Linked DNA regions of Homo sapiens: regions 1, 2 and 3 are each linked to region 4. The links come from fine-mapping of genetic effects on gene expression. A gene starts in region 4. Each other region holds a variant in brackets. All regions are shown on one strand. Distances are from middle to middle. Region 1 overlaps CTCF (CCCTC-binding factor). Region 2 overlaps LOC124903702 (a long non-coding RNA gene). Region 3 holds the start of ENKD1 (enkurin domain containing 1). Region 4 holds the start of RIPOR1 (RHO family interacting cell polarization regulator 1).

What was found. PIP is the estimated chance that this variant, and not a neighbour inherited with it, causes the effect.
Region 1: its variant is fine-mapped to the expression of RIPOR1 in whole blood (TOPMed, PIP above 0.99).
Region 2: its variant is fine-mapped to the expression of RIPOR1 in whole blood (TOPMed, PIP above 0.99).
Region 3: its variant is fine-mapped to the expression of RIPOR1 in whole blood (TOPMed, PIP above 0.99).

Annotation. Positions count from the first base shown.
Region 1 is chr16:67,601,512-67,609,610 of GRCh38, reverse strand. The region is part of intron 2 of CTCF (CCCTC-binding factor); the gene reads right to left. Among named protein-coding and RNA genes, the nearest start is that of CARMIL2, 40 kb to the left of the region's middle. The variant C/T (reference allele first, on the strand shown) is at 3,277.
Region 2 is chr16:67,421,482-67,429,580 of GRCh38, reverse strand. LOC124903702 (a long non-coding RNA gene) reads right to left here. Exons shown (of 2, transcript XR_007065093.1): 2 at 3,050-4,202. Among named protein-coding and RNA genes, the nearest start is that of HSD11B2, 5.6 kb to the left of the region's middle. RefSeq lists enhancers at 497-1,031, 1,032-1,566, 4,762-5,356, 8,076-8,099. The variant T/C (reference allele first, on the strand shown) is at 4,175.
Region 3 is chr16:67,661,765-67,669,863 of GRCh38, reverse strand. It overlaps PARD6A (par-6 family cell polarity regulator alpha), which reads right to left. Exons shown (of 3, transcript NM_001037281.2): 3 at 7,090-7,968. The coding sequence ends at 7,217. It overlaps ENKD1 (enkurin domain containing 1), which reads left to right and starts at 3,114. Exons shown (of 7, transcript NM_032140.3): 1 at 3,114-3,506; 2 at 3,599-3,793; 3 at 4,696-4,868; 4 at 5,802-5,927; 5 at 6,044-6,207; 6 at 6,308-6,444; 7 at 6,543-6,919. The coding sequence starts at 3,422. The coding sequence ends at 6,703. C16orf86 (chromosome 16 open reading frame 86) reads right to left here and starts at 3,050. Exons shown (of 4, transcript NM_001012984.3): 1 at 2,792-3,050; 2 at 2,339-2,568; 3 at 1,766-1,986; 4 at 1,109-1,664. The coding sequence starts at 2,893. The coding sequence ends at 1,264. RefSeq lists silencers at 2,683-2,732, 2,813-2,862, 2,883-2,932, 3,273-3,542. The variant A/G (reference allele first, on the strand shown) is at 3,819.
Region 4 is chr16:67,525,584-67,533,682 of GRCh38, reverse strand. It overlaps RIPOR1 (RHO family interacting cell polarization regulator 1), which reads right to left and starts at 4,854. Exons shown (of 22, transcript NM_024519.4): 1 at 4,769-4,854. It overlaps LOC100505942 (a long non-coding RNA gene), which reads left to right and starts at 4,938. Exons shown (of 2, transcript NR_104656.1): 1 at 4,938-5,366. RefSeq lists silencers at 3,248-3,527, 4,528-4,757, 4,788-4,897.

The DNA of each region.
Region 1 (8,099 bases), 76 kb before region 4:
AAGATGTCAAGAGCACTGAGGCTGAGAAACTCTGATACAGATAAAAGAGTCTTAAAGAGACAGTAATCAATCACAATGCATGAATCTTCTTTGGATCCTGATTCAAACCAATAAATGGTGAAAAAGATGTGACACAAGACAATTAGAAATTTCAACTCTGGATATCTGATGATATTAAAGAATTACTAACAAAACTAATTTAAATCTTACACATGTAGTGGGGAAGACACTGGTAAAGGACATATAATTTCAGTGGGAATAAGTTCAAGAGATCTATTATACAACATGAATATTACAGTTAATAATAACGTATACCTGAAAATAACTGAGAGCAGATTTTTAAGTGTTCTCATCACAAAAAATGACAAGGATGTGAGATGATGCATATATGAATTAGCTTAATTTTCTGCAATTATGGGGTCTTGCCACATTTCCAGACTGGCCTTGAACTCCTGGGCTGAAGCAATCCTCCCACCTAAGCCTCCCAAAGTGCTGGGATTATACATGTGACTGAGCCACTGTGCCCGGGTCTGCCAATGTTTTGTAAAAAGCTTTATTAAGGTAGCTTTATTAAGCACGTGGTGGCTCACGCCTATAATCCCAGCACTTTGGGAGGCTGAGGTGTGTGGATCACCTGAGGTCGGGAGTACGAGACCACCCTGAACAACATGGAGAAACCCCGTCCTAAGTAAAAATACAAAATTAGCCAGGTGTGATGGTGCATGCCTGTATGTAATCCTGGCTACTTGGGAGGCTGAGGCAGGAGAATCGTTTGACCCGGGAGGTGGAGGTTGCGGTGAGCCAAGATTGCGCCATTGTACTGTGCAGCCTGGGCAACAAGAACGAAACTCCGTCTCAAAAAAGAAAAAAAAAAACACTAAATACACCTCCAAAATTTCCTTGTATTTTGTTTTTGGTGATAATATTTATCATGAGATCCATCCTCAACATAATTCAAAGTGCATAATGCTATACGATTAATACAGGAACTATGTTGTGTAGCAGATCTCTAGAACTTACTCATCTTGCATAACTGAAACTTTATACCCACTCAACAGCAATTCCCCATTTTCCCCACCCTGTCAAGGGTTTTTGACCTTGTTTTTTGAAGCCAAACTCAGAACTTAGATCCAGACTGCAATGGCCGTGTTTGTAGACACTGCACAAAACTGCCCATGTCATACCATCAACTTGACATTCACCTCTCTCCTGACAATGAGATCAGGAATTCCCTGAGAATAAGAACCACATCTAACAAGTCGTTTTTTTTTTTTTAATTTTTTTTTTGAGACGGAGTCTCGCTCTGTTGCCCAGGCTAGGGTGCAGTGGCACGATCTCCGCTCACTGCAAGCTCCGCCTCCCAGGTTCACGCCATTCTCCTGCCTCAGCCTCCCGAGTAGCTGGGACTACAGGCGCCCACCACCATGCCCGGCTAATTTTTTGTATTTTTAGTAGAGACGGGGTTTCACCATGTTAGCCAGGATGGTCTCGATTTCCTGACCTCGTGATCCGCCTGCCTCGGCCTCCCAAAGTGCTGGGATTACAGGTGTGAGCCACTGCGCCCAACCGGTTTTTACTTTTTTTTTTTTTTTGAGTCGGAGTCTCGCACTGTCGCCCAGGCTGGAGTGCAATGGCGTGATCTTGGCTCACTGCAACCTCTGCCTCCCAGGTTTAAGTGATTCTCCTGCTTCAGCCTCCGGAGTAGTTGGGATTACAGGTGCCCACCACCACACCTGGCTAATTTTCTGTATTTTTAGCAGATACGGGGTTTCACTATGTTGGCCAGGCTGGTCTTGAACTTCTGACCTCGTGATCTGTCCGCCTCGGCCTCCCAAAGTGCTGGGACTACAGGCGTGAGCCACCACGCCCAGCCACGGTTTTTACTCTTTAGCACTGTGCCCAGGATGGTAAGTACTCAATAAATGCCAACCAAATTGAATATATAATAGAAAGCAGAAAACAAATCAGCCAATTCATAGTTTTTGGCTCTTATATCTTGTGAATGGGCCGGGCACGGTAGCTCACGCCTGTAATCCCAGCACTTTGGGAGGCCAAGGCTGGTGGATCAGTTGAGGCCAGGAGTTCAAGACCAGCCTGGCTAACATGGCAAAACCCCATCTCTACTAAAAATACAAAAATTAGCCAGGCGTAGTGGTGTGCACCTGTAATCCCAGCTACTTGGGAGGCTGAGGCACGAAAAGAACTTGAACCCTGGAGGTGGAGGTTGCAGCGAGCTGAGAAAGTGCCCCTGCATTCCAGCCTGGGCGACAGAGTGAGACTCGGTCTCAAAAACAAAAAATAAAAAACAAACAAAAATCTTGTGAATGACATTACCTAAACAAGAGTAAAATAGGGGCCAGGCGTGGTGGCTCAGGCCTGTAATCCCAGCATTTTGGGAGGCCGAGGCGGGCAGATCACTTGAAGTCAGGAGATGGAGACAAGCCTGGCCAACACGGCAAAACCCCGTTTCTATTAAAAATACAAAAATTAGCCAGGTGTGGTGGCACATGCCTGTAATCCCAGCTACTCAGGAGGCCGAGGCAGAAGAATTGCTTGAACCTGGGAGGTGGAGGTTGCAGTGAGCTGAGATTGGGCCACTGTACTCCCTCCAGCCAGGGCAACAGAGCGAGCCTCTGTCTCAAAAAAATAATAATAATTAAAATAAAATAAAACATATATAGCTGAGTGTGGTGGGGTGTGCCTCTAATCCCAGCTACTTGGAAGGCTGAGTGAGGCTCGAGAATTGCTTGAAGCCTGGAGGCGGAGATTGCAGTGAGCCGAGTGCCACTGCACTCCAGCCTGGAGCCTGGGCGATAAGAGTGAAACTATGTCTCAAAAAAAAAAAAAAAAAAAACCCAAAACAAAACATTGAAGTGTTTTGTATTTTTGGCCAAGAATACAGCTCAAACGAAGCTTTTGTTAGTTCTATTAGACACACTTTTCTCCAATTCTCTGTCTAGGCACCTTAACATTGTATTATATCCATGATAGCAGTCAGAGAAGACTCCTTAAGCCAGGACCACCTGAGAGGCAGCACAAGAACTACTACAGAGAGAATGACATTACCTAAACAAGAGCAAAATAGGGGCCGGGCGTGGTGGCTCACGCCTGTAATCCCAGCATTTTGGGAGGCCTGGTCCTACATTCTAGGAGTTACTGTCTAACATAAAGGACAAAATAGGTAGCACAATGGTTCAAGGTGAAATTACATAGGTTTGGAGAAAGATAACATAACCAGGTGTGATAGAAAAATGCTTCATAAATGTGGAATTTGAA[C/T]GGAACCCTGAAACGTGAGCAGGACATTTAAAGGCAGAGTTTGACAGTGGAGGGCAGAGGATGTATTCTGTAGGGGAAAGGTTTGGATTTCTGGGTACAATAAATACATGTGGGAATTAGTTATGAGTAAGAAAAAGAACTGGCTTAAAGCACAGGACAGAGGAGAGGGTAGTAAGACAGGTGAAAGATGTGCTGGTTGCCCCCCATAGTTTGGATGGTCTTGAATAACAAAATACCTCAGATGACTGGCAATGGAAAACCACTTATGCTTTCTGGGCAGAGAAGTAAAGATTCACTCATTTCACAAAGAAGAAGACTTAATTTCCTCAAAAAGTGTGTCTCTACTTTTGCAAAAACTACATGATGCACTTACCACCCTTCTGGCTCACAAAGCCCCTTCGTACCTGACCCCATGATAACCTATTCAGATTTATGTCTTGCCCTCTAGCACTCTCCCCTTCAGTCAAGCTGTCTTTTCATCCAGACACAGTTCCTACTGTCATCTCCCTGTCTTCACTCTGTACTTTACGTCTGATCCACTCCTCTCAACACCAGCTCATCCCTGGCACAACAAAGCTTTCTGAGGTTCTTGTGGCCACTACTTTGCTCCAAATGTGTTTCTGATAAAATAAGGACACAGTTTAGCACTTAAAATTTTCTCAAAACGATCTATTTTCCCAGTTGGGTGTGAAAGCTCTTTAAGGGCAAAAGCCGGGCTTGAAGCAACATATACTTTTGGACAGATTCAGCAAACCCCACCATCTGCCTGGAAAAAAACAAGGCTCAAGGTAAACTCCCGAGGTTGTTGGATTGCCAGTTTGGTTTATTCTTCCATTACCTTCTTTCTTTCATTAGTCCCTTGTTCTCAACAACCAAGAGAAAAATACAACAACATCCAATGCAAAGGCTTCTTACTATGCTGTTCCATGACAGTGGGGACAAATATAAAAAAATGTTACCGCAGAAGGTGGGGATCAAAGAACATTTGTAGAATGCTTTATAATTCACCTATAAATTAAAAATGAGCAAAGTGCTAGTATTTTTATTATAAGATGTCATTTAGGCCAAGCGTGGTGGCTCACGCCTGTAATCCCAGCACTTTGGGAGGCGAAGGCGGGTGGATCATGAGGTCAGGAGACCGAGACCATCCTGGCTAACACGGTGAAACACCATCTCTACTAAAAAATACAAAAAATTAGCCAGGAGTGGTGGCGGGTGCCTGTAGTCCCAGCTACTCGGGAGGCTGAGGCAGGAGAATGGCGTGAACCCGGAAGGCGAAGCTTGCCATGAGCCGAGATTGCGCCACTGCACTCCAGCCTGGGAGACAGAGCGAGACTGTCTCAAAAAAAAAAAAAAAAAAAAAAAAAAAATCCCATTTATACCTCTGATTGTAAAAGACTAAGCATAATCCTAACTATAATTAATTTTATATACTCAGTACTGTTCAGACAGATTATCTTTAGAATATAAATTCTCTAGGCTGGCACTGTTCAATAGAAATATAATGCAAGCCACAAACATAAGCCACATTATATGTAATTTTAAGTAAAAAAAATTCATATTAAAAAGTAAAAAAAAAAAACAAAAAACAAAAAAAAAAAAAACCCTGGTGAAATTAATTTTAGTAATCTATTTTACTTAACCTGGTATGTCCAAAATATCATTTCAAGGTTTCATCAATTTAAAAAATTGTTGGCCGGGTATGGTGGCTCATGTCTGTAATCCCAACACTTTGGGAGGCCAAGGCAGGTGGATCATGAGGTCAGGAGATACAGACCATCCTGGCTAACATGGCGAAATCCTGTCTCTACTAAAAATACAAAAATTAGCCGGGCGTGGTGGCGGATGCCTATAGTCCCAGCTACTTGGGAGGCTGAGGCAGGAGAATGGTGTGAACCTGGGAGGTGGAGCTTGCAATGAGCCAAGATCGCGCCACTGCACTCCAGCCTGGCAACAGAGCGAGACTCTGTCTCAAAAACAAACAAACAAAACAAAAACAAAACTAACAAAAAAAATTGTTATGCTTGAGACACAGACTTGCTCTGTTGCCCAGACTGGAGTGCAGTGGTAGGATCACAGCTCACTGTAACCTCCAACTCCTGGGCTCCAGTGATCCTCCTGCCTCAGTCTGCCAAGTAGCTAGGACTACAGTTTATGCCACCATGCTCAATTAATTTTCTTTTCTTTTCTTTTTTTTTTTTTTTTTGAGACGGGGTTTCCTCTGTTGCCCAGGCTGGAGTGCAGCAGAATGGTCATGGCTCATTGCAGCCTTGACTTCCTGGGCTCAGGTGATTCTCCCACCTCAGCCTCCCGAGTAGCTGGGACTACAGGTTCATACCAGGCACCAGGCTAATTTTTTTGTATTTTTAGTAAAAGTGGGGTTTCACCATGTTGCACAGACTGGTCTCGAACTCCTGGGCTCAAGTCATCTGCCCGCCTCAGCCTCCCAAATTGCTAGGATTACAGGCATAAACCACCGTGCCTGGCCTCTAATTTTTTTTTTTTTTTTTGAGACAGAGTCTTGCACTGTTGCCCAGGCTGAAGTGCAGTGGCGCGATCTCAGCTCACTGCAAGCTCCACCTACTGGGTTAACGCCATTCTCCTGCCTCAGCCTCCCAAGTAGCTGGGACTACAGGCTCCTGTCACCACGCCCGGCTAATTTTTTGTACTTTTAGTAGAGACGGGGTTTCACCGTGTTAGCCAGGATGGTCTCTTATCTCCTGACCTCCTGATCCGCCCGCCTTGGCCTCCCAAAGTACCAGGATTACAGGTGTGAGCCACCACACCCAGCCTTTTTTTTTTGAGAGGGAGTCTCCCTCTGTCGCCCAGGCTGGAGTGCAGGGACTTGATCTCGGCTCACTGCAAGCTCCGCCTCCCGGGTTCATGCCATTCTCCCACCTCAGCCTCCTGAGTAGCTGGGACTACAGGCACCCACCAGCACTCCCAGCTAATTTTGTTTTTGTATTTTTAGTAGGGACGGGGTTTCACCATGTTAGGCAGGATGGTCTCGATCTCCTGACCTCGTGATCCCCCACCTCAGCCTCCCAAAGTGCTGGGATTACAGGTGTGAGCCACTGCGCCCGGCCTAATGTTTTCTTTTTTTGTAATTTTTTTTTTGTAGAGGTGTGTTGCCCAGGCTGGTCTTGAACTCCCAGCCTCAAGTTATTGTCCCATCTTAGACTACCAAAGTGCTGTGATTACAGGTATGTGCCGTCGTGCCCAGCTATATCTTACATTTACAGCATACCTTAATTTGAACCAGTGAAACTCTAAATTCTCAACAGCAACATGAGGCTAGGGGCTTCCGTACCGGACAGCACAACTTTGTACTTGTTATTCAAAGTATGGTCTGAGGACCAGCAGCACTGGCTTCTTAAAAACACAGAACTTCAGGTCCCACCCTTGACCCACAGAATTAGATTTTGCAATTTAACTTTATACTATTACTGTTTCCCCATTAAGATTTTCTTCTCTTTTTTTTTTTTTTTTTTTGGAGATGGAGTTTCACTCTTGTTGCCTAGGCTGGAGTGCAATGGCGCAATCTCGGCTGAACACAACCTCCGACTCCTGGGTTCAAGCGATTCTCCTGCCTCAGCCTCCCGAGTAGCTGGGATTACAGGCATGCGCCACCACACCTGGCTAATTTTATATTTTTAGGAGAGACAGGGTTTCTCCATGTTGGTCAGGCTGGTCTTGAACTCCTGACCTCAGGTAATCTGCCGGCCTCGGCCTCCCAAAGTGCTGGGATTAAAGACATGAACCACCGTGCCCAGCCCCCAGAAAAAAACTTTTTAAGAGAAGTTTTTCAGTCCCTGAAAAGCCCCAAAAGTTAGTATCCCTGCAAAGGGAATGATAATCCAGATGTCTGGAGCTAGGGAACATACAAAAAGCCCAATTTACTTCAGAGTGACATTCTCAGAAAAGGTATCAAAGAACAAAAAATTGAGATGCTGTGAATGTAAATGTGGTGACCCTGCCAGAGTCACTACATAATCCCAGACTATTTAAATATCCTCAATAATAAAATTGGTAGAGGAAAAACAATCTTTGGGGTCTCCAGGATTTTGTAGCATATAATTTGATGCTACAACTTGAAGACAACGGAAAAAAATTCTATCTGGTCTCTGGTGTGAATTTGAAAACTTAAAATGTTAAAAATTGCTTGTAAACAGGCTGGGCTGAGTGGCTCACGCCTGTAATCCCAGCACTTTGGGAGGCCGAGGCAGGCGGATCACCTGAGGTCAGGAGTTCACGACCAGCCTGACCTACATGGTGAAACCCCATCTCTACTAAAAATACGAAAATTAGCCAGTTGTGGTGGCAGGTGCCTATAGTCCCAGCTATTTGGGAGGCTGAGGCAGGAGAATCGCGTGAACCCTGGAGGCGGAGGCTGCAGTGAGCCAAGATTGGGCCACTGCACTCCAGCCTGGGTGACAGAGGGAGACTCCATCTCAAAAAAAAAAAAAAAAATTGCTTGTAAACAACCGAGTCCAACCTAAAAGAGGTCACAGAATTATAAACCAGGTAGAAAAAGAAGTGGTACAAAAGAGTACAAATAGAAACCAACTGTGCTTCCAAGAAGTTGAGCTGACAGAGTACTGTCTCACTGAAAAAAAACACATGGCATAAAGTCCACAAAACAACAGCATCTACTCGGTCTTAAAGCAATAGCTTCTATTTTTAATAGAGAAAAATCAGACACAAAGTAGCAAGCCATCAGCCTCTCAATACACTGCTCAGAATCTCAGAGCATCCCCGAGGTCAGGAGATCGAGACCATCCTGGCTAACATGGTGAAACCCCATCTCGACTAGAAATACAAAA
Region 2 (8,099 bases), 100 kb after region 4:
GACTCTGTGGCTTGTCCAGGCCATTTGGTTGTGTCACTCCCTATGCCATGACCCTGTGTGTGCAAGTGAGTACATTTGTGTGCATTGTGTGTGTTTCTGGTAACTCTCTGTCCTTCGGTCTGGGTCATCCTGCCTCTAGAAACTCAGGGAAACATTCCTTTTCCAAAGTCACTGATTCCTGTTGCGGTGAATGTATGGCCCAGGCTTGGAGGCAGACACAGCACCCCTGGCCTGACTTCCTGATTTGAGCTGTAGAGATTGGATTGGCCAGACCCCCCAGCTTTAGCCACCACACCAAGAGTCTGGCTGTGGTTTCTCCAGCCTCAGTCCATTGGAGTCTTCCCCTTGGAGTGAGGAAGGGAGTAGAAGCTGAGATGAGGGTCCTGGGGAGCCTTCAAGGTCAAGGCAACACAGATAGAACCAGCACTTGCTAAAGCAGGAGTTGAAGAGTAGGGGGATGGGGCAGGAAGGCAAGATAAGGAAAGAGGCAGAAGCAGGGTCCTACACTGTCCTGGGAAGGAACCGTGAAGGCCACCATGGGGACAGACTTGCCAGGAGGCGATGTTGGGATTTGCGTTTGGCTGAAGAGTATAACATGGTTAGGATGAGGAAGGGGGTGTTTCCAGCTCAGCTTCTGGAACCTCGTGCCACCTCAGGCAGAGCCATTAGTCTTATGGGATTTGGGTCTTGGTGGGACTGGACCATCTGCCACATTTTTATATAAACTCCCCCTGCCCATTCATCCCACTTCCTAGTCCAAGCCTCCTCCTTCCCAGGACCTATGCTCCAGCTCCTGTGGCCTCCTCAACCACTGACCCCTTATCCCTTATTAGGTGGAGACGTTCTAGAAGTACAAGGTGGTTAGGGCAGTCATTGCTGGCAGAAGCTGGCCCAGCCCTGTCTGAGGCCTGTTGCCAAGTCGTGCCTGCCTAGGGGCAGAAAACCAGCCTCTGCTAGAAGCAGGAGTCTAGGCTGTCAGGGGCCTCCAGGGAAGAGAAGCGGAGAGGGGCAGTGGGCAGGAGCCTCAACAGATAAAGCAGGGCCTGGCAGGGCAGAGGAATGAAGGGTGACCAGGAGCAGAGCACCTGAGCCACTCGGCCCCTAAGCCCTCAGCCCACAGCCTCCCTTAGTCCTTTGTCCCAGCCTCCAACCCGCCTTGGTCAGAAACCTGGTTAACCAAACCCTTAGCACGCCCCAGGCTCTGGAGGACAAAGGGGTGGGCAGGCGGGCTCTGGTCTCCTCCAGCGGAGTCCAGCAGCTCACTGGTACCCTCTGCTGGCCGTGTAGGGAGAGCACGGCTCTGAAGGAGCTAAAGACCAGGTAACCCACCGGCTGCTGGGTTGAGGAGAGGGGAACAGATGTCTACAGTAGGGGGTACCAAGTGGCAGACTCCAGGAGCCCTCTCGCTCTGTCCTCTGACTGTACTTGGGTTCCTGGAGCAGAGCACTCAGCACTGACTTGTCACCTCCTCTTCCCTCTGCAGCTAAGAGGCTGCAGATTCCCAAGGAGCCCCTGCCCTGCACTCTGCTTCACGCCTTCACCCCCACCATGCCTCCTCTTGGCAGAATGGCAGAGGGTCCCTCTTCCTGCCAGTGGCCAGGGTCCTAGACCCCATTGCTCCCTGTCCTCAAAGACAACAAACTTGTATTGAGTTCCTACTGCATGCCAGGCCCTGTGCTGGGCACCACAGATATAGCAACTGACTACTGGCCCCAGCAGCAAGTGTACTGGCGCTAGCCTCACCCATTGGGAACCTCAAGCCCGTATCCCTTTCCACAAGCATCTCTCTTGTGGCTGGGCGTGGTGGCTCACGCCTGTAATCCCAGCACTTTGGAAGGCCAAGGCAGGCGGATCACCTAAGGTCAGGAGTTCGAGACCAGCCTGGCCAACATGGCGAAACCCTGCCTCTACTAAAAATCCAAAAATTAGCCAGGTATGGTGATGCATGCCTGTAGTCCCAGCTACTCATGAGACTGAGGCAGGAGAATCTCTTGAATGTGGGAGGCGGAGATTGCAGTGAGCCGAGATTGTACTACTCACCGCACCCCAGCCTGCGTGACAGAGCAAGACTCTGTTTCAAAAAAAAAAAAAAAAAAAAAAAAAAAGCATCTCTCTTGTGTTTTCTCCTACTGTTTTCAGCTGCATTTCTCTAAAGTTGTCCATAATCACCATCACCACTCTCCCCTCCCAGCCTTTGCCTGGGACCAGCTCCCAATCGTAACCCCCTAGTCCCCAAATCCCATAGACTCATCTCTGGCTTCAGCTAATTTGGCCTCTTCAAAGCCTCGGCCCTGCTGACCTCTCTTTCCTGCCCCAAGCCCTGTCTCCCTTGGGTGCCTGCGAAGCCACGGCTGCCGGGTTTCCTCCGACCTCACTGCCTCTCCTTCTCAGCCTCCTTCTCCAGCTTCTCTTCCTTGTGGGTGAAGCTCTGGCTGTAGAGGCCTCACCCTCGGCCCTCCCCACACCATGAGCTCATCTTTCTACTCACATGCTGGCGACCTCCCTGCTTGCTTTCTGGCCAAGCTCTCCCTTTTGACCACAGGCCCACATGTCCAGCTGCCCCTGGACACTTCCCTTGGACACACATAGGCCCCTCAGCCTCAGCATGTCTAAAGCTGGTCCTGGCAGCCATCGTGCCCCACCACATCCTCAATCTTCATGCCATGCACTGGCCTCCAAATCTCTTGCTGTGTCCCAAGCCCTGGGTTGGGTGCAGATACCTCATCATAGCCTTTGTAGTAGTTGTCATTATCACCATTTTACATTCAAGGGAACTGAGGCTTCCAGAGGTGAAGGGAATTGCTCAAGCTCTCAAGTTCCACTTGCGTTGGAGTCTTGGACCAGCCCCAAGATTCAAACTCAGGTGTACCTGAACCCAAAGTCTGGGCTCTTGAGAACTGTGTTAATACGGGGCTGTGTTGGTCACCTGTGGCATCTTAGACTTCATCCTGAGGGCAAAGGAGAGCTTGGAATGGTTTTGAGCAAATGAGACCCCCATCCCAGGTGGACAGGAAATGGATCTGGGGAAGAGTGGAGGCTGACTAAATTATTATTATCACTCTTAAATTTTATTATGATTATTACTTTATTATTATTATTATTACTTTTAGTTAGAGATGGAGTCTTGCTCTGTCACCCAGGCTGGAGTACAGTGGCACAATCACGGCTCACTGCAGCCTTGAACTCCTGGGCTCAGGCGATCCTGCCATCTCAGGCCTCCGTAGTAGCTGGGACTACAGGCACTCACCACCACACCTGGCTATTGTTTTTTAAATTTTTTGTAGAGACAGGGGTCTCACTATGTTGCCCAGGCTGGTCTTGAACTGCTGGCTTCAAGTGATTCTTGAGGCTGGGAGTCTTGTTCCTGCATCCAGATGAGGGACGGAGCAGAGGTCTGTTCAAACAAACTGAGCTTGAGGCACCCCTGAACATGCAAAGGCTGAGCCCCAAGGCAGGTGGAAGCCTGTGGGCTCCAGCATGTTGCTCCTGTAGCGTGGGAGCCCTGGAGGTTGCCGACTCCCCTCTGATTACCCTAGGCATGAACTGAACTCGCCCCTGCCTCCACCATTTTTCAGAGCTATCCCATCTGGGCTGGGCACCTGGAAACCAGGCCCTTCAGTTACGGAACTGAAGGAAACCTCCCCTCCAGTTACCAGAGAGGGAGGCAGTAAGACACAGAAAGCCAGGAGCATCACTTGTGTTTTCAGCCTGTGTCTGGCACCCTCCTCCGAACTTTTACTGTCTCCAGGATTAAAGGCAGATGTTTGGGGATTAGGGTCCTTGAGTTTGGGAAACAGAGAGAGTATGTTCTGCAGGGCTTTCTGGACCAGTCCCAGGCGGAAAGCAAGCCTCAGCTGAGAGCATTTGGAGGGAGAGCTTGACTGACTCTGGATGAAATCCTTCTAGGATCCGTCTTGTATCCTCCAGTGTGGTTGTGTGTTTGTGGCATGCCAGTCCTTGTGCTTAGCTTGCTTGGTCTTTATTTTATTTACTATCCTCACGTCATCACTATGAAGTAGGTACTATCATTATCCTTATCCTATACATAAGGATAAGGCTACCGACCTTTTGCTATTTGCTGCTCGATTAAAAACAAGTCTCCCAACGACGGAATTGAGGCAACTTGATTGTTAAAACTCATTCCAAACTTGTCTCCTTACAGCTTCCATCACCC[T/C]GATTCAGGCCTTTTCTTGGCACAACAACTGCAAAAGATACAAAAATTAGTTGCTGTTGGCTGGCTGTTTTAATTTATTTGCATATACATAATTCAGCCCCACCCCTGGTGGCTAATACGCCCCCTGGGGAAGCTGTGGCTGTCTTCTGATTGCTGGTGGGGAGGACTGTGTGTGTTGTTTTTTTAAATAAACTGAAACCAGATGGAGGGGGGTTTTGTTCACAGCCTTGCGTACAATTTTCTCCAGCGAATTCCTTGAAAAGTCAACCACCTATGAGTGGTGCCTCTGCTCCGTGGAGGTCCCTCACCGCTGGTATGCAAATATCGAGCAGGGTTGATATTTCTCAAGAAGAAAAAGAGCTTCTTGGCCTGAGGGCTTTCCAGAATGCGGGGTCATCTCCTGGTTGCCCCCAGTTTTAGGTCTGTACTTACAGTTAATGTCCTCGCTCTCCTTCCGCCTTGTGTTGGGAGTGGGCTGGGGCGGGGGAGTCTTGGGCCAGGCTTGAGTCAAATCACCTAGACCAACCACTTGGTATAAAAATGTGAATTCCAGACCCCCACCTATACCCCATTTGCAGCACTGACCTCCGGCACGAGACCCCAACTGTCCAGCTGGGTTGATTTTTGCAGTCAGCGGAGGGGTTATTCTCCTAAAGGGGCCCAAGCCACTCCTGCTTCCATCCTGGGAAGGCCAGAAGCTGGAGGTGGTTATCGAAATATTTTTAACCGCCAGCCAGGTCCAAGGCTTTGTAATGCCCCGGGAGCCCTCATTAAGCGATTCCTTGTTCAGAGAAATGAGGCGAGTGTACCCACTGGTCACCCTGCCAGAGGTTTAGTATTTTTTCTTTGGAACGTGAATTGGGCATTGTCGTAGTGAAGTGTGACCCAGTCCCCAGGCAAGGGAGAGCACTTCTTTCCCAGCTCTGACCTTCATTCCTAGCTCAGAACACCTTTCTTTTGGATTCCAAGCTTTTTCAGATAATTGTGTCAGGTTACATAAGGCTCTGAGATATGAACACTCAAAGGAAATTCCGGTGAGAGCAGGTCTGAGAGGTTCCTGCACATAATTTGCTTTAAAGTATTCGAGGAAAACTTCAGGTGTCTGAGGCCAGCACATTTTTGAAATAAAATAAGAGCAGCCAACAACTTTGCATGGATGTGCCATTCCCCATAGAAATGAGCGAGCAAAAAGACAGATTTCACACTGAAAGGAAATACCCCTCCCCAGGGAGCCTGTGCAGGGGCGGGAGGGGGCTGGTGGGGGAGAGGCGGGAGTCAGTTGCAAGAGAACAGCTTGGACCAGGCTGCCATTGAAATGGAAATCTTCACCAACCAGGATCACTTTTTTCCCCCTTTCTGCATCTTAGGTGACACGTGGTAAACACAAGACTTCAGTTTTCCAAGAAACATAAAATAAAAACTGAATTACTGGCAGAGAAGCTTTAAAATCTTTGGTTCCTGGGACTCTGCGGGCACATTTTCCACACACCATGATTTTTATTTCATTTGCCTCTGAGGGGCGGCCCTCCAGCAGTTCTGTTGCATAAGGTACTGTTTCCAAACACCTTGTCCCCAACTGGTGACACAGAGTAAGTTTTATCTAGGTCTGAGAAGAGTTCTGGAAGAGTGACATCGTGTTCCAAGTCGCACCAGTTACAATCAACAGTAGGAAGGTTGCCAAAGATCTCACCAAGAAAGCTGAGAGAATATTTTAAATACTAAATGGCACTTCTTGCTTAAAGCATGAAGTGGTCGTAAAAACCACTTAACAGGGAAGAAAATTAATGGGAGGAAAGTGCCTTGAATGCAGCAAATTTTACAAAAAGCTTAACAAGGAACATGGAAAAAATAGATTTACTATGTTGAAGAGGTGGGATAATATAGGAAAGTCCATTTTTACACAAAAATAATTTGGTTATTTACACAAGGCTTCACAGAAGAATTCCTATAAGTAGCGCTATCCTTTTTTATTCTTCACGTGTTTGACACACATTTCTTTCTTTATGATTATTATTTTTAGAGACAGAGTCTTGCTTTGTTGCCCAGGCTACAGTGGTGCAGTCACTCATAGGTCACTGCAGCCTCGAACTCCTGGGCTCCAGGGATCCTCCCCTTCTCAGCCTCCTGAGTAGCTTGGACTACAGGCATGCGTCATCATGCACCGCTAATTTTTAAATTTTTTGTAAACACAGGGTCTTGCTATGTTGCCCAGGCTGGTCTTGAACTCCTGGGCTCAAACAATCCTCCCACCTTGGCCTCCGAAAGTGCTGGGATTACAGCGGCCTCAACACACATTTCTTGAGTGCTTAGTATGTTCTGGGCTTAGTAAGTGCTGGGATTACAGCAGCCTCAACACACATTTCTTGAGTGCTTAGTATGTTCTGGGCTCTGTGCTAGGGAAGCAATAGTAAACAATACAAACATTATTCCTCCCCTGTGGGAGGAATAATAATTCCCTCCTCTTCTGTCTGACTGGAGGGACAGGCCCTTATCAGATCATTACACAATCAAGGAGACCCAGAGAGAAGGAACGAGAAAGCAGAGTCCCACGGTGCTATGGGAATGATGGTCTCTATTCTGGGGACCACAGAGGGCTTTCCCAGAGGAAGTAAGTTTCCAGGTAGTGTGAGCTTCAAATGCAAAGGCCGTGGGATAGACAGAGCTGTGGTCAGCCTGAGCCAGGGGGCACGCAAGGTCTTGGAGACTGCGGTGGCCACAGTGAGGAGGAGGTTTCTATTCCAATTTCATGGTATATGGAAATACCTCTCCCTAAGGAGTGGGGAGTGTTGTTGAGGGTTGTAAGCAGGAAGTAAAAGAATCAGCTTGGCGTGGATTTTTTAAATTTTGTTTTTGTTCTAAGACAGCCACAGGCTGTAAGGAGAATGGACTGATAGGGGTGGGGACGGGGACAGGGAGGGCCCCCGTGGAAATCAAGAGCCAGTCAGAAAGCCAGGGCAAGAGATGCTGGTGGCCATGAAGACACGCCAAGTGGATGGGCTGAGTCATCCAGGGCCCATTGGAGAGGGTACTGTGACCCAGACGAAGTGGGCCCAGAGAGCGAGAGCTGTGGCTGATCATCTCCCACCCAGTCTAATTTAATAATTAAATTTACTTCCATTCGTTGATGATGCGGACAGCATCATTTCCTGGTAGAAAGACAAGGACGGTCTGGATGGGAGGCACCAGTGATTACTACCCATCGAGCACTCTTTGGGTGCTCTATATGCATGGCCACATTTTCAGGCCTCATCACAGCCCTAGGCAGTAGCTATTGTTACCCCCATTTCAAATACAAGCAAATTGAGATTATTAAAGTTGAAGAATTTATGGCTGGGTGCAGTGGCTCACGTCTGTAATCCCCAGCACTTTTGGAGGCTGAGGCGGGCGGGTCGCTTGAGGCCAGGAGTTGGAGACCAGCTTGGCCAACATGGTGAAACCCTGTCTCTACTAGGAAAAAAAAAAAAAAAAAAAGCAAAACAAAAACAAACAAGCAAACAAACAAAAACAAAAATTAGCCAGGCATGGTGGTGGGCACCTGTAATCTCAGCTACTCAGGAGGCTGAGGCAGGAGAATTGCTTGAACCTGGGAGGTGGAGGTTGCAGTGAGCCGAGATTGTGCAACTGCACTCCAGCCTGGGTGACAAAGCAAGATGCCGCCTCAAAAAAAAAAATTACCCAAGGTCACCATCTTATAACTGGCACCATGAAGATTGAACCACTAACCTGCCCTGGGACAGGTGAAGAGTGCCCGGAACCCTGGGATCACACTGGCTCTAATTATGGACGTATCTGTTGGTTCAGGCCCAGGGTGGGCTGATCCAGCTTTGTCCCTGTGGAGTCACCTCTGGCAGCTCCCAGGAGCCCTGTAAGTCAGCTCACATGTGTGTGTGCACACCTGGAAAACCACAATTGGCCTTTTTCTCCC
Region 3 (8,099 bases), 140 kb before region 4:
GGGAGGAAAAGGTGTAACTGCTCAGGGAATTACCGGAAGCCACTGAATTCTAAGGTAGCTGGGGCAAGAGGAGGGGAATCCCAAGGGGGAGTGACACCATCAGGGGCTCAGGTGTGTGTGTCACAGGGCCACTGGATGGATCCGTGGGCCAAGGGATGACAGGCAGGGTGACCAGTGAGGCTGTCACCTGGAGATGACAGTGGTCCAGGCGACGGTGCTGACTGTGGGGTCCGAGAGGTTCTCAGCCTGAAAGGGTAGGATCACTGGCCTCAATGTCTGCTTAGCTTGTAGGAATCAGGGAGCAAAGAACAGGATGGGGTCTGGGGTGACACCCAAGATTCTAGCTTAAACAATTGTGCAGATGAGATACAGGAGGAAAAGCCAGTTGGAGGAAGGGGAAATTTCCATGAACTTAAAATTCCCTGTGTCTGTTTGTGGTGTCCAAGGAACACACAGGAGGCCCAGGATGTGCAGTTTCCAAAATGGCCAACACTGGCTGGCTCTTCCCAGAGATCCTTGCCGGTTGGACACAGCTGTCATCCAGTGGCTTGGCCTCAGGGTCCCAGATGCACTTACTGCCCCTGTCCACCCCTGCCTGCCAGGAAAACATCACTGATGCCCTGTCACCTGTGACCAGAGGCTACTCCACAGACAAGGTCCGGTCCAGCTATGGTCTGGCAATGAGTAGGAAACATCCCAAAGCTGTCACTGTTGTGACAGGCAAAAGAACTCTGTGCTACCTCCTAGGAGGATCCCAAGTTTTGATCCCCTCAAGGTGAGACCAAATGCAGGCCCTTCCCCAGGAGACAGAAGAGCAGGGCCAAACACCTGCTTCCCATGACCCAACAGACCCTTTCTTTTCTCTGCCCCAAGTTCCTCCTTCTCACTTCCCTCTTCATCACCCAGTTAGCTGCCTGACCCTCAGATTCACCTAAACACACAGCACCAGGTCCACCCTGATTCAGTGAGGCATGGGGTGGCACAAAGGAATCTGTCATTGTCAAAGTCTCAGGTGATGCAGATGACCATTCAGGCCTCAAACCCTGCACTGTTGAGTCCTCCATCCTCTTACCCATTTCAGGCAACCTATCTGGGGAATCACAAAGTCTTTGAAAAAGAAAAATATTTATTTTCAGCAAGACCAAAGTCCCAAGTGGGGGCAGGTGCCAAATTTGCCCCCGCCACCAGAGGGCCTAGGCCCACAGGAAGCCTGAAGCCAAATTCAGGCGTGGAAGGAGGGGAGCCACCAGTGGGGCGGGACAGTCACTTGTACTGAGGAGAGAGCGGGGGGACAAGTGGAGCAGTGCAGACACTCAGCATCTTGTCGATGTCCACCTGGGTTGACTTATCCACCTCGGCCTTGTGGTCACTCACCCCCAAGCTGGGCAAGCCCCCAGGCTCCTCTCCAGCCTCCTCTCCGAGGGGAGCCAGGGCATGGGTGGGGGTCACTAGTGGACTGGGACAGGGCAAAGCGAGGCCTGGGCCCAGCTCACCTGCCAAGGGCAGCAAGGCCTGCAGTTGCTCCACACCTCCCTCCTCGGGAACCGGGGCCAGCTCTGCCTCTGCCTCCACCTCAGCCTCCCCGTCCCCCTTCCCTGCCTGGTTCAGCTCAGGGTTGCAATAGTTGACGTACTGGTACAGCGGCCGCAGGCGCTGGGCCTTTCCTGCAAAGACCCAGGGCAGGGCAGAGGCTAGAGCGCCAGGTTGTGCCATGTCGGGCCCCACAGGCAGGGGGAGAAGGAACAGTCCAGGGACTGCCACTCACGCTCCAGCCTCAATGTCTCTAAGGGTGCAGACACCATGCTGGCCACAGCGTGGAGCACGGGAGCCCCCAGGCTCTTGCGCTTCTTGGCTTTTTTGTGCTGTTTGGCAGATGGTGAGGGCTCACTCTGGCTGTCCTCTGGCTCCTCCTCCTGCAGCGGCAGCTTGGGTGGCAGCTCAGCTTCAGCCTTAAGATGGGCACGAAGGCCCGGGAGGCTGAGAGACCTGAGCCAGGGACAAGAGACTTGAGCCAGGCTCCAGCCCTGGCTCCCATTCCCTGGCCCAGGGAATAGCCCAGCCTGCCCACAGCCCCAGGGCTCGACGCCTGTCCCGTTCCTGGTCAATGAGACCCCAGGCCCAAGAGGCTTAGAGGCCAGTGAGCCCAGGCCCCTACAAGCCCTGAAGCTCCCACTCTCCTGCTGCTCCCTACACGGGGGCTCTTGAGGAACGGGAGGAGAGTGATGGTAGTGGCTGGGGACGAGAATCCTCCCTGCAGGAGTGCAGGATTTAGGAATCCTACTGTGGTGTGTGCCCCAACCCCGGGGCTGCAGCTCCTTCCCCCCGAGAGCCCCCTCACTTGACAGGCTTTCTCTTTGGACCATGACGGGGCCTCACAATGGAGACCACGGGCCTGGGGCCTCTCTCCTCTAGCGCCCCGGCATGCGGCTTGGGCCGCTCCTCCCCCAGCTTGGGTCCTTCCTCCTGGAGCTCCGACTCCGAAGCTGCGCCTGCTGGGCGCTGGTCTTCACTCTGGGTTCCGCGGGCCTCATGGGCAGGCACCAGGAACTGGTCTCCCGCCACTGGACACTAGAGATGACACACAGGCCATCGGTCACCATGGCCGGGCAAAGGACATAGGGATCCGTCACTGAACACCTAACGTTAGACACCGAAACGGGAATAAGGACACCAGCCTGTGCCCCTCCCCGCCTGGAGGGCCCAGCCTGGCAGTTAGCGGGTCGGGGCGCTCAGTTCCACCTCTCAGAGCGCTGCGGCCCTGTGTTTGAAGGTTAAACAGCCTGACGGTCACCTCGGAGGTCTGAGCGCTGCCGGGCTCCTCCGTGAGCTGTCCCTGCCCCACGACCGTCGCCTCCTGGACCCCCGGCCGCCTCTCCGCCCCTGCCGAGGCCATGGCTGCGCAGGCTGAGTGCGTCCTCGACAGCTGCTTGGGGCGGGCCCCAAGGGGCTGGATGGTGGCCCCGCGCTGACCCCGGAGACCGGCCAGCAAGCGAGGGCAGAGCTGGGAAGAGAAACCGGCGACCGCGGAGCCCACCCTCGGCCGAAACTACAAGCCCCAGGACGCTTTGCGCCGGGGTCAGTGGGCCCTGACCCCGGGGACGGAAGCCACGGTTGCCCGGCAACAACAAGTCCCGTCGGGTGGCAGCGGCTGGCGGCAAAACCTCTCGAGTGAGCCCCTGCCCGAGTGCCGCGGGGGAGAGGCCGCGAGCGGGACCGAGAAGTGGGCTGGGAGCAGAGGTCGCGGAGGTGGCGAGCGAGGCCGGGGCCCAGGCGGGGACCGGCAGGGGCCCGGGAGTGGCGGGCACGCCAGGGTCAGGGTGCCGGGCGAGGGAGGGGGCCCGGGGTTGGGGAAGGGGGCCCGGGGAGGGAGGTAAACAGCCCTGCAGGCCTCGGGGCACCGTTGCTGGGCGGCGCCGGCGGCATGTGCGAGGGCCCGTCCCGCATCTCGGGGCCCATCCCCCCAGACCCGACGCTCTGTCCTGACAACTACAGGCGGCCGACCTCGGGTGAGTCCGGGGGCTTGGCGGTGGTGCGAGGCTCAGGGGTCGGCCCTGGCTCCACCTCTGAGCCCCGGACTCCGCCCGGCTCCGCCCCACAGCTCAAGGGCGCCTCGAGGGAAACGCGCTGAAGCTGGACTTGCTGACTTCCGACCGGGCCCTGGACACCACCGCTCCCCGTGGCCCCTGCATCGGTCCCGGTGCCGGAGAGATCCTGGAGCGCGGCCAGCGCGGCGTCGGGGACGTGCTGTTGCAACTCGAGGGGATCTCCCTAGGTCCTGGGGCCTCTCTCAAGAGTAAGTCCCAGGAATGGAAGAAGGG[A/G]CAGAGAGGCAGTGCGGGGTGGAAAGAGATCAAAAGCAGCTGCTCTTTCCACCCTGACGTGGGCCCAGGCTTTGCATCTCTTGAGTCTCAGTTTCCCCAACTATAAAAGGGGGAGAAATATGCTACCTTCTCGAAGGAGGTGAACTGAATGAGGTAGTTCCCACGAAGCCCTAGCTCTGCTTTATGCATTTGTTACCCATTAAATTTGTTTGTTGAGTGCCTACTGTGTGCCAGGCCATATAGATGCTAGAACACAGGGCTGAAGATAAGCATGAGCCATCACTGAGTCAAGGTGGGATACAAAGATCAAGAGATGAATGTCATATATGAGATGATCTATGGTGTACTTCAATGGTGTACTTCACTATAATAATGGAGGAAATCACCTGGGCGCAGTGGCTCACTCCTGGAATCCCAGCACTTTGGGAGGCCCAGGCGGGCAGATCACTTGAGTCCAGGAGTTGAAGACCAGCCTGGCCAACATGGTGAAACCCCATCTCTACAAAAAATACAAAAATCAGGCTGGCATGGTGGAGTGTGTCTGTAATCCCAGCTACTCGGCAGGCTGAGGTAGCCGGGGAGGTTGAGGCTACAGTGAGCTATGATCATGCCACTGTACTCCAGCCTGGGTGACAGAGTGAGACCCTGTCTCAAATAATAATAATAATAATAATAATGGAGAAAATCATCCTGTGATACTTACTACATGAGGAAGGGAACACGGTGATGAGGGAGAGTGTGTGTAGGGTCTAAGGTAGTTGGAGAGGTCAGGGAGCTCTTTCTGTAGGAGGCAGGGGGCAGGCCTGTGTGTGAACTAGTGGAAGTTGGACTGTGTGGGCCCCATGTAGGGCAGAACCTGGGGGCATCTTTTCTCCAGGGAAGGACCCTAAGGACCATGAGAAGGAGAACCTGAGGCGGATCAGGGAGATTCAGAAGCGCTTCAGAGAACAGGAGCGCAGCCGGGAGCAGGGCCAGCCCAGGCCCCTGAAAGCTCTGTGGCGCTCACCCAAGTACGACAAGGTGGAGTCCCGGGTCAAGGCCCAGCTCCAGGTACCTGCTTCAGGGAGCCAGAAGTATTATCCATTTTGTTGGCCAACAGGCAACTGTACCCTGATCTGAGTTCTGGGGTGGGAGGGAAGTCACAGAGGTAACAGAGGACTAAGAGACCCTGGCTCTGCTGCAGGGCGAGGCTGGGGGGCTTCTCAGAAGTAGTGATGGTGGGGCTGATCCTGAGGGCAAGTAGCAATTAGTCAAAGGGACAGCAGAAGAGAACATTCCCAAAAGATGGAACCTCACAGACCACAGGGCACGCAGCAGTGGAGATGCTAGGTACAGTTCACTGTGAGGAAAGAAGGGCGTGAAGTTAGGCCAAGAAGTCAGCTGGACCCACGTCAGGGGCCACAAAAGCCACTTTTCAGCCCTTATTTCTGAGGACAGTGGGAAGGGCAGGGGTATGGTGGGGGGCTCTGTCTCAGGGACTCAGTAGGAGGAGCAGGAGTGAGAGGAAAGGCAAGGTCACACAAATGTGTTGTAGCTGAAGCATCTGTGGGGTTCCCAGGGGGTGGGAGTGTGTCCAGGAAGCAGATGGAAATTCAGGCCTGGATCTCAGGAGTGAGACCTAGGAGTTATTGACGATCAGGTTGAGGACAACGAGACCAAGGAATTGACCGCCTGGATTTGAGGACTTGGAGGCCAGCTGTTAGGAGCCTTGCAGGGCTAGAGCCAGGAAGCTTGGCTAGGAAGGAGGAAAGAGAGTGGTAGCTGGGCCAGTACTGAGGTGGAAGGAGAGATGGTTTGTTGTTTTCTTAAAAATCTGACATACTCACACATTTGTGTGCTGATGAGGACAAGTGTCCCTTGAAGAGGGAAGAGGGCCCGAGGGACATGGATGCAAAGGTCAGAAGGGCCAAGATGGCCAGGGTCTTGCAGCTTGAGCCCCAGACCTCAGCCTGCCTGCTCTCTCTGCTGTGCCCTGCCCTCCAGGAGCCTGGCCCTGCCTCTGGGACAGAGTCTGCCCACTTCCTGCGGGCGCACTCCCGCTGCGGCCCTGGCCTCCCACCACCCCATGTATCTAGTCCCCAGCCAACCCCACCAGGTCCCGAAGCTAAGGTGAGAGGATGTATGGGGGCTAGATGGTGGTTGGGCAGGGCTCCTGGTGTGGGGGGGGTGTTCAGGGACACAACATAATGCTGTCTGCCCCCACCCACGCTTGCTGTGTCCTGCAGGAGCCAGGCCTGGGGGTGGACTTCATTCGTCACAATGCACGAGCTGCCAAGAGAGCCCCCCGGAGGCATTCCTGCTCACTGCAGGTCCTGGCACAAGTGCTAGAGCAGCAGCGGCAGGCCCAGGAGCACTACAATGCCACGCAGAAGGGCCATGTGCCACATTAGTAGGTCTCACTGCCCGACACTCAGGGTGAAGGACACCTGTGGAGGGTGGGAACCAACCTCTGCCCTCGGGTCATCAACTCTGAGCCTGTGTACCCACAGCTTGTTGGAGCGCAGGGACCTGTGGCGGCGGGAGGCCGAGGCCCGCAAGCAGAGCCAGCCGGACCCTGCCATGCCCCCAGGCCACACGCGCATGCCTGAGAACCAGCGGCTGGAAACACTGACCAAGCTGCTCCAGAGTGAGTACCTGGGCAGGGAGGCTGGAGGGGGGCCCCACTGGGGACCGGGCACCCCTGCCCAACACTCACTGTTCTCACTGTTCCCGGGCCCCCTGTAGGCCAGAGCCAGCTGCTGCGTGAGCTGGTACTGCTGCCTGCTGGGGCAGACTCACTGAGAGCCCAGAGCCACCGTGCTGAGCTGGACCGGAAGCTGGTGCAGGTAGAGGAGGCCATCAAGATCTTTTCTCGGCCCAAAGTCTTCGTGAAGATGGACGACTGAGCCCCTTTGGGGGACAGTGGCAAGGAGCTCCATGCTGAGGATCGCCACATGGCTGCAAAGGACAGGGTTGGACCCAATCCCAGAGCAGAGGTCTGAAGACAGGAGCAGGGGGGTGGCCAGTGTCCCTAGAGCACTCTTCCCAGTCACCAGTGGCTGCAGAAGGGCCACCCTAGCCTTTTAACTGCTTTGTCAAAATTAAACATTTTGTACACAGGATTTGTTTCCATAAGAGCTTTTCTTACCCTAAAAATGCCAAGCCTGGTGGCCCTCCTGCTGCTTGATTGCAGGAAGTTCTCCCCAATGTCACTCCTGCCTTAGTCCAGAGCAGAAGGCAAGCTGGTGAGACCAGGGAGGAGGCTGGAACTGGGACACACAAGGACCATGACTGTATTTGTAGAAAACCTTTAATGTTCCCCAGGCTGAGGGAGCCCTGTGAGCCAGCTAAAAACCCCCACTGTGAAGTCCCTGCCATGTCCCAGCAGTGTGGAGTGGCATGGGGCTTCATCCTGACTGTCAGAGGCTGAAGCCACTACCATCTCCTCGAATGCGACTCCCCCAGCCAGAACTGGCCTGCTCCTGGTCATCCAGGGAGGGCAGAGAGCTGCGGGTACCAGGATGTCGGCAGCCAGGGTGCAGGTCCCAGCACGGGGGCCCCTGAGACAGCCCATTGGAACTGGGAGGCTGGCGGTTCTCAATGACCAGGTCACTGCTGTCATCGTCACTATCAGGCTCAGCAGGCCCAGGCCCTGCAGAGGGAGGACCTGTCAAACGCCCAGATGCCCCTCGCACCACGTTATTGCGCTGGTTGGCGGGCTTGACAGTGACAATGAGGTTATGGCTGTTGGCAACCATCATGTCCGTCACTTGGTCCAAGGTCTTCCCGGCTACTTCAATGCCATTGACCTCGAGGATCTCATCACTGACCGCCAGCAGCCCTGTACTCTCAGCCAGACCCCCACGTACCAGGCGGGAGATGAAGATTCCTGGAACCCGCTCCAGGCCCTGGGGAGCCACACGCACGCTCATGCCATCTCGGATGTAGAAGCCCAGGGGGCGGTCTGAACCATGCTTGTGCAGCCGCACCCGTCGGTGGGTCTCAGGCAGTAGGTCCACGTCTATGACTGAGGAAACCTGGCGGAAATCTTGGGGCAGGCTGATTAGCAAGGGTGGCCGGGTGCGCAGGGGTGCCACTGGCCGCAGCAAGAGCCCTTTCTTGCGCCGCTGCAGAGAGTTGGAGGCAAAAGCCAGGCCGCTGGAGTCAGCTTCTGCTGCAGAAGAGGGGGGATGTTGAGATCAGAGACCTGCTCCCCGACTTGGGCTGTTTACAGGGGGCACTGTAGCTATTTCCTACCACTTAGAGGTCAAGCCAAGGGCAGGGACTGCAGAGGGTGACGCT
Region 4 (8,099 bases):
TGCTCCTCTTCCCACCCTGGTCCAGTTTCTGTACCCACCACTGGACAAGGTCACCAGTGACCTCCCTGTTGCTGAACCCAGTGCCCATGTTTTATCCTTATCCTGCTTGATCTCAGCAAAGCTTTGGACTTCGTGGTTCCCCTCCTCTTCTTTAAGCCCTTCCTTCCCCTGAATTTCAAGAGACAATACGCTGGTTTTCTATCTACCTCTCTGGCTGCATATCTTACTTTCCCACAGAGGCCCCTTCTTTCCTCCCATCCCCGAATGGGCCTTATCCTCCCCGCCCTTGGGCTGTGCACAGATCCCGCAGCTCAATGCCATCTAAATGTTGCCAGCTTCCTTATCTCTCCTCCACCCAAGCCACTCTTCTGAGCACCAGGCCTCTGTATCCAACTGCCTGCTTGCTGCCTCCCCAGATGCAGCGTGCGCTGTCATAGTGCATGCTGGGTTTGAGGTTCCCAAACCAAATTCACCACTTTCCACCTGACTCTCCCTAGTCTCAACTTCTCCATGACACTCCACCATCTATGTACCCCGTTGTTCAAGACAGAAACTAGAAGTCGTCCTGGATGTCTCAGTTAGCCCCTATGACCAGTCACCCCCTCCTGCCAGGTCACCCCCTCCTGCCAGGTCTGGCTCTTAAATCTCTCTGCAATCTGCCCCCTCACCTCTACCCCTATAGCCAGAATTCAGGTCCAAGCCATCACCAACTCTCCCCTCGAGCCCTACAGCTGGGCTTCTGATGAGCTAGAACCTTCCTGAGGGACCTCCTGTCTCCACTCTAACCTGCAATCATCCATTCATTATTCAGTAACAACACTGACCTTAAAATTGTAGCCACTTGACAGTGCCAAAAACTGTCCTTTATTGAGAGCATTCTATATGCCAGGCATTGAGCTTAGCAAACATCATCTCATTTAATCCTGGCAACAGCCTTATGGGGTAAGTCCTATTAGCTCCACTTCGCACCTGAGAAACCTGAGGCTGTGTGACCTTGGGCAAGACACTTATTCAGCCTTTTGGGCTTCAGACACCCATCTGTAAAAAGAGGACAATAATAATAATAACAACAGCTATTTCCCAAGGCTGCTGGGAGGATGAAATGAGATCTCCTCTCATGAGGATGTCCCTCTATAGGAAGTGTTTGGGGAAGGGAGAATTGTATGTGGGGTAGGGACGTTGAGGTGGACTCACTATACCTAATTTTTTTTTTTTTAAGACGAGGTCTCACGCTGTCACCCAGGTCTCAGTGCAGTGGTGTGTTCATAGCTCACTGCAGCCTTGAACTCCTGGGCTCAAGCGATCAGTTTCAGTGCAGTGGTGCGTTCATAGCTCACTGCAGCCTTGAACTCCTGGGCTCAAGCAATCTTACTGCCTTAGCCTCTTAAGTAGCTGGAACCACAGGCATGCACCACCATGCCTAGCTAACATCTAACTGTGAACACACAACAAATACTAACTGCTATTATTTTTAACAGTCACACGGCCGGGTGCGGTGGCTCACGCCTGTAATCCCAGCACTTTGGGAGGCTGAGGAGGGCGGATCATGAGGTCAGGAGATCAAGACCATCCTGGCTAACACGGTGAAACCCCATATCTACTAAATATACAAAAAAAAAAAAAATTAGCTGGGCGTGGTGGCTGGCGCCTGTAGTCCCAGCTACTCAGTAGGCTGAGGTGGGAGAATGGCATGAGCCCGGGAGGTGGAGCTTGCAGTGAGCCAAGATCTCACCACTACACTCCAGCCTGGGCGACAGAGCGAGACTCTGTCTCAAAAAACAAAACAAAACAGTCACACAGGTGGTAAGTGTCAAGACCATGATTCAAACCCAGGCTGTCTGACCCCAGGACTCTAAATCTTTAATATCACTCTATTCAGACTGATGTGAAATAGCCACAGCCACTCTTGTCCCAGGGAGAAAGCCCAGACTCTCTAACATGACCCACGTAGGCCCTTCAGGATTTGTCCTGTCCCTCACATTCTTTCAACCACTCCTCTCCTCCCAGTCCCCTGCTTTCTCTGTTCCAGCAACTGAGACCCTCTCTCAATACCTGCAAGGTTCTTCAGAATCTGACCGGCAGCCCCCATCGCTCCTATTCCTTCTTCCCACTACTCAGCCCCAAGTCCCTCTCCTTCCTCAAGTCTACCCTATGACTTCTTCCTCCAGGAAGCAGGCCCTGGGTTGGTTCCCCCTTTTTGACTTCCTCCCTCTGAACCCCGAGACCACATAACCCAGTTGTCAGTTCTCCTTTAGGGCCTGTCTTCCCACCAGACTGAACCTTGTGAGACCTGGGGCATATCTGCTTGGCTCACCACAGCGCTCTGGGGGTCCTGTAGCACCTGGGAGATGAAGGGGGGGAACAGTGGGGGAAGCTGGGCTGCCTAGACACAGGAACAGCAGGTCCTGAGCTGTTTGTTGGTGGGGAGGATTTTAAGTCTATGTCCACCCCAACTCCCCTACCCGACATGCAATCCTCCCTCTCCCTTCCCACTGGCTGATGGTATCGTATACCATCAGCAAGTGGGGCTCTGCTCCCTGGGATGGTGCAGGGTGGGGATCCCCTGGGATTCTGGACTTGGAAACCGCTGACTGTTCCATCACTTTTCTCTCTCTGGTTGGCCCTCTGCTGCCACCATCCCCCGAGTCCCATAGGAACTAGGATGTCTAACTGTTGGTACAAATGACCATCATAATGTCCATCTGAGTGACCGCTTCGGGAGATGGGCGGGCAAGATTGCCCTTGCTGGGTGAGAGCAGGTAGGGAAAGAGCTGAACCCCTTGAGCTAAGGCAGAAGGGCCACCTCAACTGGTGGGGGACTGGCTGATAAGAACCAGGGGACTCTCTGGGCTCATGTCAGCCCTATAGTCTGTTCCCAGGATGGGAAATAACCCAGATCCAAGGTTCCAAAGGTTATGGGGCTTGCAGCACAGCCAGGTCAGGATGGCCGTGAGTGGAGGAGCCCTGACCTGTCCGCATGGCCCCAGATCTTGCAGCCCCGCTATACTTCCTACACACCAAGACTGGCACACCCGGGTGCGGCGGAATATCCCACCACCTGGGCTGCCCATCTCAGCACTGTGCCAGGCCAGCTGCCTCTCTGGGAGTCCCCGGGTCTAGCCCCGCCCCACCCCGGGGCCGCCCCGACCGAGGTAAACAGAGGCTAAAAATAACCTGGGCAAGGGGCGGCTGCAAGGGAGAAGGGGGTCCCTTCTGAGCCTGTCCTTGTCTCCATGGCAACTGCCCCCAAACCCGGCGGCTGACGTCATCTCGCAGCTGCCCAAGCGTATAGGAGGGAGGGGGAGCGGCACAGCCCCGGACCCCCCACCCCGGAACCGGGCGGAGGCTGTCGGGTGGCCTCACTTCCTGCCGGCCCCCTCCCTGGTCAGCTGGTTACATTCCCTGGCCGCGCGCTGGGAGCCAGGCGGCCTCCCCCGGGCCGGGCCTGGCCAGGGCTGAGTCCGAGCGGCGACGCAGAGGGGCCGCCGTGACTCACCCGCGCCCTCCCCGCCCGCTTCTCTCAAGCGGGACCCAGCCCAGAGTCCTGAGTCCTCCCCTCACCCGCACCCAAACCCAGACCCCTGGGGCGGCTCACCTTGCTCCTCTCTCCCGCCGCAGTCACAGGACCCAAGCCGGAGAGGGCGGTGGAAGAAGGAGCTATGCCAGTCCTCCTTGTCCCGCTGGAGTATTTTGTACCTCAGCCCCCAATTATCATTCCTCTCCTCCCTCCAATACCACGGAGGTGGGTGTCGCAGGGGCAAGGACTCAGATCTAATCCTCGCTTCTCCCAAACCAGCTGTGTGACCTTGAGAATACTACTAACCTCTCTGGGCCTGTTTCTGCATCTGCCAGATGGTCATAACCCTCCTCAGATGCTGTGCGTTGGCCGAATGCGGCAGGCCCAGGGCGCGGCCCCGCAGACTGCAGCCAGGGCACAAGTATTGTTACACGAGGCTGCGCACAGTAGGTGCTGGGGCGGCCAGCCTGGACACACGTTAGAACTGGCTGGGGAGGGTCTGTAGGGGAGGCCGGACTCAGGGCTCACCCTGGAGAGGAGGACAAAGGGTGCTGAATCTGGACTGAATCCGACCTCTAGCCCTGGTGAGCAGCCCCTTGCCCAAACCAGTTCTGCAGAGAGCCCAGGCCCGGCTGTTGCAGGAACCTTGCGCCAACCTCCATTTCCAGGGAAAAGCTCCGTTCCCCGACAAGGACGATCCTCTCCGGCTTCGGCTACGCCAGGTTTGGGCGGAGAGCCCGGCTCCAGCCCAGGCTCGGTCACCTCGGGGCCGGCCACAAAGCCGCTTAGGCCGGCCCCTAGAGCTAGGAGGATTAGCTCAGCTCCTAGGCCGGCCCGCACCCTTCGTCGCCCCCTCCCCATTTCCAGCCCAGCCTCCCCTGCGGCGAAGGCAGCAAGGGCTCCCAGGGAGCGCGCGTGCCAGGGCCCAGGCTGGCGCCTTGAGCCCGCTCTCTGGCCTGGCCCATCCCAGCGCCCCGGGGCACCGGCCGCCAGGGCCTTGCCGTGGGAGGAAGGCAGCAGCGCCAGGCTCTGCAGGCCCGGAGGCGGCGGCTTTTGTGGGAGAAGCTGCGTTCTCCACGCCCGGGGGGAGGGGAGGAAAGACAAGGCGCGGCCGGGGTCCGGGAGATGGGGTGAGGCGGGACAGAGCCGCAGATCCCGGACCCACCGGGCGGCGCCGGCGGGGGGGCACCAGAACCTCCGCGCCTGCTCCCCGCCCGGCCTGCAGCCCCGGAAACGGCGCGGGACACTCACATGGCTGCGCTGGGCTGCGCGGACCTCGCGCTGTCCTTGCGCTCGGAGGTGCCCGGCCTGGTCGCGCCGCAGCTGCCGCTGTCGCCGCCGCAGGCGCCGGCCCCTCCCTCCGCCCGCCGCCCCGCCGCCCCTCCCCTGGCCCGCCGGGCCCCACCCCCTGCGCTCCCGCGGCTCCCGCACCCCTAGAGGCGCCCACGGCTCGCTCCGCCCTCTCGGATAACGGGGCAGGCCGGTGGCCCACGCAGCCCACCAGCTTGCAGGGAGGGCAGACCCTGGGGGATGTGAGGGAGGCTTTCTCACGCAGACCCTAAAACGGTGAGCGCCAGGGAGCCCCGCCTGCTTGTCCCCTCCCCAGATCCCTCGGGCTCTGGAGACCTTGCGGGCCCCCTGTCCGTGACCACCTGAAACAGGTCCTGGAGCTGCTACTGCTGGCTTAGGCTGGTTGGTGGAAAGGATCCAGGGCTGTTGTGAAGGCCTTGGGGAGTCCAGAAGCCGCCTGGCACCTTCTGGGTCCAGACGCTGCCCTTCAGCCCTGCCATTTCAGCCAGCCTCAGCGTCGCTGTAGAGGCAGGCCGCCCTTTCTGCCACTGTCTGGCTGGTAAGTCCAGGCTCATAGCCGGGTCATGCATTCCCCACTCATTGGGTACTGGTTTTCGGGCAGTCTTGGGGTGGGGACGCTGGCAGGGTCCGGGTACAGGGCCATGTGTTGGGCAACCCAGTCCTTTCCAAAGCCGGGGCTAGAATGCTGGCCCTCCACACAGTCGGTAAAGGTGGGGCTGAGAGTCGACCCCATGTTGGGGTCAAAGGGCCAGTTCCACTCCCCCGCTCCTCCCATCAATCAGACACCCCTGGCCCTTCCAACCTGGACACCCCTGAGGCTTCTCCAGGCCTTGCACTCCCGCAGCCCTCATGTATGTCAGACCTACCCAGGAATGGTTTCAGGGACAGTAAGAGGTCCCTGAATATCTGTACCCCGCCCCCACCAGTCCTGAGGGCTGTTTTTTTGTGTGTTTTGCTTGTTTGCTTGGTTTTGTTTGGTCGGGTTTTTTTTTTTTTTTTTTGAGACAGAGTGTCACTGTCGCCCAGGCTGGAATGCAGTGCAAGCTCCACCTCCCAGGTTCATGCCATTCTCCTGCCTCAGCCTCCCGAGTAGCTGGGACTACAGGCGCCCACACCACGCCCGGCTAATTTTTTGTATTTTTGGTAGAGATGGGGTTTCACCATGTTAGCCAGGATGGTCTCGATCTCCTGACCTCGTGATCTGCCCGCCTTGGCCTCCCAAAGTGCTGGGATTACAGGCATGAGCCACCGCGCCCAGCCTGTTTGGTCGGTTTTTTAGAGATGGGCTTTCTTCATGTTGCTCAGACTGGTCTCTAACTGGGCTCAAGCGATCCTCCCACCTTGGCCTCCCAAAGTACTGGGATTACAGGCTTGAGCCACCTCTGCCTCACAGTTCTCCACTCTCCAGCCCCTCCTCTTGGGCTTCCTTTGTAGTGCCCTTTTCTTTCTTTCTTTTTTGTTTTTTTTTGGGGGACGGAGTCTCCCTCTGTTGCCCAGGCTGGAGTATAGTGGCGTGATCTCGGCTCACTGCAACCTCCGCCTTCTAATTTCTATATTTTTGGTAGAGATGTCCCGGCTAATTTTTATATTTTTGGTAGAGATGGGGTTTCACCATGTTGGCCAGGCTGGCCTCCACCTCCTGGCCTCAAGCGATCCACCCACCTTGGCCTCTCAAAGTGCTGGGATTACAGGCATGAGCCACTGGGCCGGTCAGTGCCCTTTTCTCTGAAGTCCTTAAACCTGGGCATGACTTCCAGGGGCTGAGTTCTTCTCTTTATTCACCCTACCCTAAAATATCATCCAGTCTCAGGGCTCCCATCCATTCACTGCTGACCATCCCAAACTTCCCTCTGTGCCCAGAGCCCTCTCCTGTTTCAGAGCCCCTGGCTGCTTTCTGGTTGACTCACCAGTCCTCAGCATTGTCCCCATCCCTACAAAGCACCACTGTCTACCCAGGCATCCACCTGAGCTAGAGACTGGGGTTTTCTGGAGTTCTCAAAGCTGGCACCAATTGGCCTCTGCCCACCCCTAAAGTCACCTCTCAGCCAGGCATCTTCTGAGTACTTTCTCTGCAGACACCCTCTGTTCCAGCCTCCTATTGACTCCTTTCATACTGCTCACCATGGCCAGGCAGCAGTGTGCACACCATGTGTGCTCATGGGCCTGACCCTGCCTGACTGTGTTGTCTCTAAGTAGTGTGCGGGTAGGAACCACAGAAGTCCTTATCATCAAGGTGCCTGGCTCATAGTGGGAGTTCAAGAAATATTTGTTGAATGAGCAAGTAACTGAACGTGTAAATGCATGAGCCCTTGGCATCCCCCTCTCCTGCCCTCACCTTCCTTTAGCTGCCCAGTCCTCTTGCTTCTTTCTCCTTAACATCTTTTGAATTAATTCCCTCCCCCTACCATGCCCACCCACTCCAGAAGATAGTCCATACTATGTGGTAGGGCCTCCAAGGCCCAGGAGATCTGGCCTCAGATGACCTCACCTCCTTATCTTGCACTTATTCTGCGGCCCCTGTGATCTGGCTTCCACTACACTCCCAGCCTGCAGCTCCCTGGATGCAGCCTCCACCCTCTGGCCTCTGCCTTTTTTCCCAGCCTCCCTTCTGCCTAGGATGCTTCTCCCCCTCATCCACTTGGAAAACAGCTCAGATGTCCCTTCCTCCAGGGAACCTGTGTCCTCTGAGCACCCATTACTGCCTATTGTCCTTGTCCATGGCCAGGCCTGTGACCACCAGACCAGGCACAGATGGCGCTGCAGTGATTAAATGGAACACCTGGGAGTTCACCTGGCTCTTCCCCCACATCCAAGGGGCCTCGAGGGAAGGGCAGCATCCCTCCGAGGGTCACAGGGTCCTGGTGGCTTTCAAAGCCTCTCCCTAACAATTGGTGAGCTAAGCACAGGGGAGGACACAGCTTGAAACCCACTTCAAAGAGGAGACACCTGAAGCTCAGGGAAGGCAAGAACTTCCCATAGAAACTGTCACATCGTTGGGAAGGGCAGACTCTGAGCTCCAACTTGGCTCCCTGGGTCGTGGTCAGCTCGGCCCTGTTTGAATCAGGCATCATTTCCTGAGCCCTGTCCTCTGCCTGGGACTCAGCTGGTAGCTGTGGTGTGTGTAGAAAGGAATTATGAGCACTTCTAACCACTGGGAGATCACATTCTCAGAGGGGTGGACTCAGGCCTGAGAAAAATCCCTGGGACAGACAGCAGAGGGTGGTGAGAGCCGCAATGAACCCCCAGTCCTCACACACGGCACTGCTAGTTC